2 linked regions of the Homo sapiens genome follow. The protein of the gene in region 2 interacts with the protein of the main gene of each other region in a pairwise test. Each region holds a gene or a part of one and is shown on either strand. Other genes may lie near its edges. The genes, in order: TMEM19 and C10orf67.

Region 1 (3,823 bases), on a different chromosome or scaffold from region 2:
AAGCATGTCCTTAACTTACTTTCAGTAGTAACTGATAGTTCTAAAGTCAGGTAGCAAAAATATAATATGCATGTTTCTAAAAATTATCCTAGTGCTATAACATGCCACTTGATCTGCTTGAGCATAAAGGAAATCTGCTAGATTATAAACTCCTTGAGGACAAAGAGTATCTTATGCTTCTGTGTCCCATGTTTCTTTGAATAGTGCTAGATACATAATAGATGATTAGGAATAGATGTAGTCTGATTTTTAAAAACCTTTGCTTTTTTCCTAATTATTTCATTCTATGAACTGTTTATCTTTTCTTCTTTTTTGTAAAAAAAAAAATTATGGCCAGGTATGGTGGCTCACACCTGTAATCCCAAAACTTAGGGAGGCCAAAGCAGGCAGATCACTTGAGCCCAGGAGTTTGAGACCAGCCTAGGCAACGTGGTGAAACCTCGTCTCTACTAAAAATACAAATATTAGCCAGGCATGGTGACAGGTGCCTGTAATCCCAGGTACTTGGGAGGCTGAGGCAGGAGAACCGCTTGAACCCAGGAGGCAGAGGCTGCAGTGAGCTGAGATCATGCTGCTGCACTCAAGCCTGGGTGACAGAGCGAGACCCTGTCCCAAAAAAAAAATTTTTTTTTAGAGGCAGGGTCTCGCTCTATCACCCAGGCTGTAGTGCAGTGATGCAACCATAGCTTAGTGCAGCCTTGAATTCCTGGGCTCAAGCAGTTCGCCTGCCTCAGCTTCCTGGGTAGTAGCGACTACAGGCACGCGCCGCCACACCCAGCTTTTCTTACTGTTTGGAACTTTTTGTTTCCTTAAGGATAAAAAAAAATCTAATGCTGATTTAAAGTATATCATAGTAGTTGGGAATATTATCCTAGAGTATGACTGCAAGTCACTTAAACTCTCAGTGTTGTACTTGTCCTGTCTATAAAATGTGAAGGAATAATGGTATCTATAGCAATGAATTATCATGAAGTGTTATCCATGTAAAATGCTTAGCACAGTACTTGGCATACAAATATTTTATAGATGTTAGTTATTATTACTGTTTTCCTTCCACTACTGCTATTCACAGTGATATAGTTTGACCATGTCTCCACACAAATCTCATCTTGAATTGTAGCTCCCATAATTCCCACATGTCAAGGGAGGGACCTGGTAGGAGGTAATTGAATCATGGGACAGGTCTTTCCCGTGCTGTTCTCGTGATAGTGAATAAGTCTCACGAGAGCTGATGGTTTTGTAAAGGGGAGTTCACCTACACAAGCCCCCTTGCCTGCCGCTATGTAAGATGTGACTTTGCTCCTCATTTGCCTTTGGCCATGATTGTGAGGCCTCCCCAGCCATGTGGAACTGTGAGCCAGTTGAACCTCTTTTCTTTATAAATTACCCAGTTTCAGGTTTGTTTTTATTAGCAGCGTGACAGCAGACTAATACACACAGTTATAAGAAATTTTACTTTGCTACATCATGACTTTAGTGTGTCTAGGATTTAGAAGTAAGAGTTACAGAACTTCCTCAGGATCTGGGTATTTAGAACCATTCATGACAGAAACATATACCTCAGTGTTAAGAGGATTAGGCAGGGGTTCAGTCACAGTCAGTCTCTAAGCTGCACACTGAAGTGGAGGGCTCTGGTCTCTTGGAGAGAGAGCGAGCATTGCCAGAATAAGGAGAGGGTCACATGAGGGGGATTTGTGGCAAAGTGTTTGTGGAAGAGCACAGCAAGAGGGGGTGTTGTCAGGAAAGGCCACTGGTGGTGCTCTGTGTGGTTTCACAAGGGTGGCCTGACCTCTTTTTGGTCACTATACTTTGGGTCTGGTTTCAGTCTTTCTGAAGTAGAAGCCTCACTCTGTCATGTACCCAGAGTTGATTAGAGCCTAGAAAACTGGTTGAGTGTTGCTCATTGTCATAAAGGATTGCTATATGAGCCAGAATGCCACTTCATTAATCAGATAGAAGAACTACCAGGCAGAAGAACACAAACATCACTGTTCAGGCATGCCCTATTCTTGTAGTCAGGCCACTTGAGAAGTCAGATTATAATTAGAAGGCTGCTTTGGTGAGTACAAAGTCTGAGAAACAGTTATGCAAATCCACAAATCAAAGGTTCCCCTCCCTTGGACATGGTTCAAGAAGTCTGCCAACCTCTGGTTCTTTTGGCCTTCACTTTCTACATTTTGGGCTAGCCAAGTAAATTATTATAGAATATGTATGAAGCAATAGGTGAGCTTTGAGTTTATTAAATTACTATGAAATTCCAGTCCTGCCTTTCTCTTTTATGCCTCCTGGAGATTACCCAGGTCACCCTGGTTGGAATTTGGGGTATAACTCTACTCCCATTGTCAGAAATTTGTAGACAGTGTCATTTTACTCCCCCAATGCTATCTGTTAGGTACAGAATTTACCTGTTTTAGGCTCACAAGGCAACCATAGTCCTCAAGTCTTCAAATTATTTGGGAGTGCCCTATTGTCATATATATGAACCCCTTATCAATGATATTTAGAGATCTGCAGGATGGAGAGGTAGAAAAGGTATGAACAGGAGATAGCAGTTACTAATCTAAAATGTAGACATAGGTAGGAGTTGCCAAAAGTTCCAAGCGATCTTTACACTGCATGAAAGAAACCATTCCCTCAAAGCTTGTCTTGTTCATTTCCTCAATCTGAAGCTGTCACCAACATGAACATTAATTGCTTCATGTGGTATTTTAAGGTGGCTGAAGTAAAAAGGATATAGATGCCATTTGTAACATCTCAGTGTAGGTTGTGTAGGGCTCTTCTACCTTGGGTTTGTTTAGAGACGGTGGAACAAATTGTTAACAGTGAATATTCATGAAGAGGAGGAGGGGAGACACTTTGACTTTCAGTTTGTATACTTCCATGTGTTTTGACTTTCCCCTTCAGTAGTTGCATACAACTTTTGTAATGTTTTAAAAATCAGTTGAAAAAACTTAAAGGTTGGATAACAATATTGTAATATTTATCATTATTATTGTTGAGCTTTTGCCACTGGAACTGTTGCTGTTATTAGTATCCATGATATTAGGTAACACTTATTAAGGACCTCTTACATCCTGGATAATATAATAAGCATATTACAAAAATTATCCCTGACTTTTTACAGCAAGCCGGTAAAGTCAGAATTCTGATTATTCTCATTTCACCAATGCAAAATTGAGACTTAAGGAGGTTAGGTAACTTATCCTAATCTTGAAGAGGTAAGTGAAGGAGCCACAGTTTGAACTCTAGACTGTTCAACTCCAGAGCTGAAGCACTTTGTTATTATTAATACTTTATATCAAGTTACCCTGTTTCTGTACTCTCGATTAAAAGGTACCAAAGTTAAATACCAGTAATTGAGTATCTCTGGAAGGGTCAATGAGTAACTATCTCATTGGTTATGATATCTGAACTTTGAGCTAAGCAATGGAAAGGGTTATTATAGAAAAAGAAGGCCAGGTGCTGTGGCTCACTCCTGCAATCCCAGCACTTTAGGAGGCCAATGCTGGGCAGATTGCTTGAGCCCAGGAGTTTGAGACCAGCCTGGGCAATATAGTGAGACCCCATCTCTATTTCTAATTTTTTTAAATTAAGATAATTTTAAAAATATTATCTAAAATATTATCTTACATTCATATGGCATTGCTTGAAAGGAGATTAAAATATGGTAAAAAATGTGTACTCAAAATGGCATTCAGTTTACTGCTTGCTAAGAATTTAATTGGTAAAATGCAAATTGCTAGAAATGTACATTTCAGGTTATAATATAAAAATAATGGAAAAAATCCATTCTTTTTTCACAGCATTGATGTATGAATTGAAT
Region 2 (3,823 bases):
GCAGGCTTGAGGGGGGAGCCCTAAGGATCTATCAGGCTAGCAAGTGTTCCAGGCAGAGAGAACACTGGGTAGAAAGATGGTGCCTGGATGTCCTAGGAGCAGCAAGGAGGCCAGTGTGGCTGGAGCAGAGAGGGAGAATAGTGGAGGTGAAGTCAGAGGGAAGGGGGACGGTGCCTGTGGCGAGGGACTTTAGACTACCTTAAGGACTTCAGCTTTTACTTTGAGATGGGAAGCCATGAGGGGATTGGAAAAGAGGAGTGACATGATTTGATTTATCCTTCAATGGGATTACTCTGACGGCTGTTTAGATAATAGACTATAGTGAGGACGAGGGCAGAAACAAGGAAACAGGAGACTATTACAATATTCCTCATGGAAGATGACCATGGGGTAGCAGTGGTTGGAGGTCCGGAGAGACTGTGATGAACAGGTAGAATGGAATTGCCAGTAACCCGGATGGGGAGGATAATGAGATGAACAGGTCTGAAGGGAATATCATAAGCTTACTTCTGGTCATTATATGTCAGCAGTGACTATTAGACATCCATTTAGGCTGTTAAGTAGGTAGTTGATTAGATGAGTCTGAAGTTAAGAAGAGAGGTTCAGCTCGGCTGTATCAGTTTGGAAATAATTAGCACAAAGATGGTGTCTTAAGCTGAGAGCCTTGGTGACATCAGCCAGGAAGTGAGTGTAGTTAGAGAAGTTTATGAGCCATGGGGCACATCAAAGTTCTGTGTTCTTTGAAGAGGAGTAAAAGGAAGCAATATTCTTATTTAGCCCTGAGAAATATGCCACAGTGAAAGTTTAACACACCTAATGTTGTCTTCATTGACTGATTTATTAATAAGCATTTGTAGGATGGACAATTCTAGGATTCAGTGAGAAGAGTCATTGCATTTTATTAATACATATTCATAGGTCTGTTTTCCAAAATAAATTAGGACGTTAATTTTGTATGTAATTTATTTTAAAAAACATAATTATCTTCCCCAAATTCTGTTTTATGCATAACCACCAACTTATTATTCAGAAATAGAATTGCTGAGACTATAAATAAAGACTGTGTAGGAACCACTTAGCTAATTTGTTGTGATGTGGGTTTCCATTCTAGGTAGCAGGGTTGTTAGCTAAAATTAGAGACATTTGGAATTTGAAGGGACACTGAAGAATAAATCTTCCTCATTCAGTTAGATTCTGAATGAGCTGGAACTTTTTGAGTCAGTCACATAAAGAGTTAGGACTGGTGAAATCGGAGAGTCATGGGCTTATCCTCATCAGGGAGTTAGAAGAAGAATCTGCCATTTCCGGCTGCCCCTCTGTCACCCAGGCTGGAGTGCAGTGGTATGGTCACAGCTCACTGCAGCCTCTGACCTCTGAGCTCAAGGGATCCTCTCACTTCAGCCTCCTGACTAGGTGGAGCCGCCGGTGTGTGCCACCAGGCCCAGCTAATTTTTTTTTTTTTTTTTTTTTGTATTTTTGTAGAGACAGGGCTTCACCACGTTGCCCAGGCTGGTCTCAAACTCCTAAGCTCAAGCAGTCTGCCCACCTTAGCCTCCCAAAATGCTGGTGTGAGCCACCACACCCAGCCTGAACCTGATTTTAAAATATCATATTGTATTATTGTAATATTATGGTACCAGAAGGAATACCTGAAAACATAATTTCAAGTTTCTAAATCATATCCTGAAAAAAAATTGGTAAAAACTATTCACACTCCATAAACCACCCATGATAGGTCTTTTGCTTAAAATGGGAAGGAACAGAAGAACATACATGTTCATGCTTAATGAAAAATGTGGCTGAATAGTAAAAAGGAGCCGCTTAGCACTGGGTAGGGTAAAGGATTGCATTTCTAGACTGGAAAAGTGAATCACTGGGATCTGTTAAATGTGCAGCAGTGTAGACTATACAGAAACAGAATTAGTTCCCATGGCTGTTTATATTTACTATATTGATGTAGCACTCAGGGTCCAGACAGGAGGCAGAAACCTCACTGCTAATTTCAACAGGGACTATTTCCTGTTCTCTGTTAAATAGTAAGAAGGATTTTTAACTAGTGAAAGGCAGTAAGGTGGTAAAAGAAGACTCTAGACAATACACTGATAGCAAACACAAAAAGCAGCTATGACCTCCAGGTCTGAGGAAGAGGAAACAGGGCAGAAACTAAGGAGTTAGAAGACCCGCCCTCAAAGGCTGAGATTAGGAATGATACCTCTTTGGAGAAGACATGGTGGGAGAGAAACTTGCCAGAGGGTGTGACAACTGCTGGTCTGCAGGGATGGCTTGCCCAGTGGCTGCGAAACTTGCTGAAAGGTACAGACAGGTCAAAGTTCCTTACCTAGCTGCGAGATCCAAATGTTCGTTCCTGGAAGTCCTGACTTTTAAAAGTTCTGCCTTTTTTTTTTTTTTTTTTTTTTGCTGCCTTTTTTCCATTAATCTTTATTACTGGGCACGGAAACACTAAGAGGCACCCCAAAGAATCCTCTGGGTTCCAGACAGAGTTCTCCTTGACTCCGTTGTTCACCAGCAACCCAATTGCCCCTTGGTATTCAGAATCAATCCACTTCAGCCAGTAGAGTGACTCCCTTTTCTGCCTTTGTTTCAGCAGCATAAGGATCACAAAGTGACCAGTCATCAGTGTCATCTAATTCAATAGAATTTCTGTTATGTTTTCTGCTGGAAACATTCTTCCCTTGTGAACTAAGACTTCCAAACCAGCAGATCCTAAAGTTGCAGAGACAGGAAACTATAATTTTGGGCGTGAGTTATGAGGCATAAGAGTGAGAGGTGCCTCTTCATTCTTGGACCTATGACTGTAGGAGAGATAGCACCATATACTGTTTCAAAGCATATACTGCATCCTGTGAGACAGAACTGCATTCTTTCATGGATTTGCTTCTCCCAAATATTGCTGGCAGTGCAGGTGTGTGCCACCATGCCCAGCTAATTTTATTTTTTTTATTTTTATTTTTTTGTAGAGACAGGGTCTCACTATGTTGCCCAGGCCATTCCTGAACTCCTGGGCTCAAGTGATCTTCCCGCCTCGGCCTCCCAAAGTGCTGGGATTGCAGGCGTGAACCACTGTGCCTGGCCTTAAATGAATCTTCAGTAAGCTATTTAACCTATTAGGCGAGCCACTTCTGGGTGATGGGTTATATGATAAGATCACTGAATTCCATGGGCATGAATCCATTGCTGCCTGTCTTTTGCTGTGAAATGAGTTCCTTGATGGGAAGTGGTGCTGTGAGAATACCGTGATGATGGATAAGATGTTCTGTAAGTTCATGCTCGGTGGTTCTGGCCAGTGCAGTATAGTCAGGGAATGCAAATCCATATCCAAAATAAATGTGTGTTCCGGTGAGGATGATGGAAGAAGTTCAGTGCTATCAACCTGTCGCTAGGTGGCTGGCTATTCCCTGTGGTTCATGCTGCCACGTTGGGAGCTCAGTATTGATCTCTGCTGTTGACTAGTTAGACACTCAGCACCTGTGGTAGCCAGGCCAGCCTTGGTAAGGGGAAAACCACATTGTTGAACTCCTGACACCATGGCCATTTTGTTCGAGGGCCATCAAGCAAGCAGGGGTGGCTGCAAAAGGAAACTGAACGATATCCACAGAGTGTGTCATTTTGCCTAATTATTTAACTACTTTCTCTGTAGGGGATTCCCTTGGGTGGGCATTCAGATGCCGCACAAACACCTTTACAGTCTGTGCCCATTTTCAAAGGCTCATCCACAGAACTCTTCCCAGACATTCTTGACATCCATCTCTCAATCTGTTCCTTCCAAGTTCCTGACCATCTTGTTAACTGTTTAGCAGCTGCC

What was found.
Region 1: the proteins of C10orf67 (region 2) and TMEM19 interact in binary tests that used the Homo sapiens proteins (3 or more experiments, as listed by UniProt).

What each region holds. Positions count from the first base shown.
Region 1 is NC_000012.12:71,692,582-71,696,404, forward strand, and holds part of TMEM19 (transmembrane protein 19), read left to right. Parts: intron 1-3,823.
Region 2 is NC_000010.11:23,337,997-23,341,819, reverse strand, and holds part of C10orf67 (uncharacterized protein C10orf67, mitochondrial), read left to right. Parts: intron 1-3,823.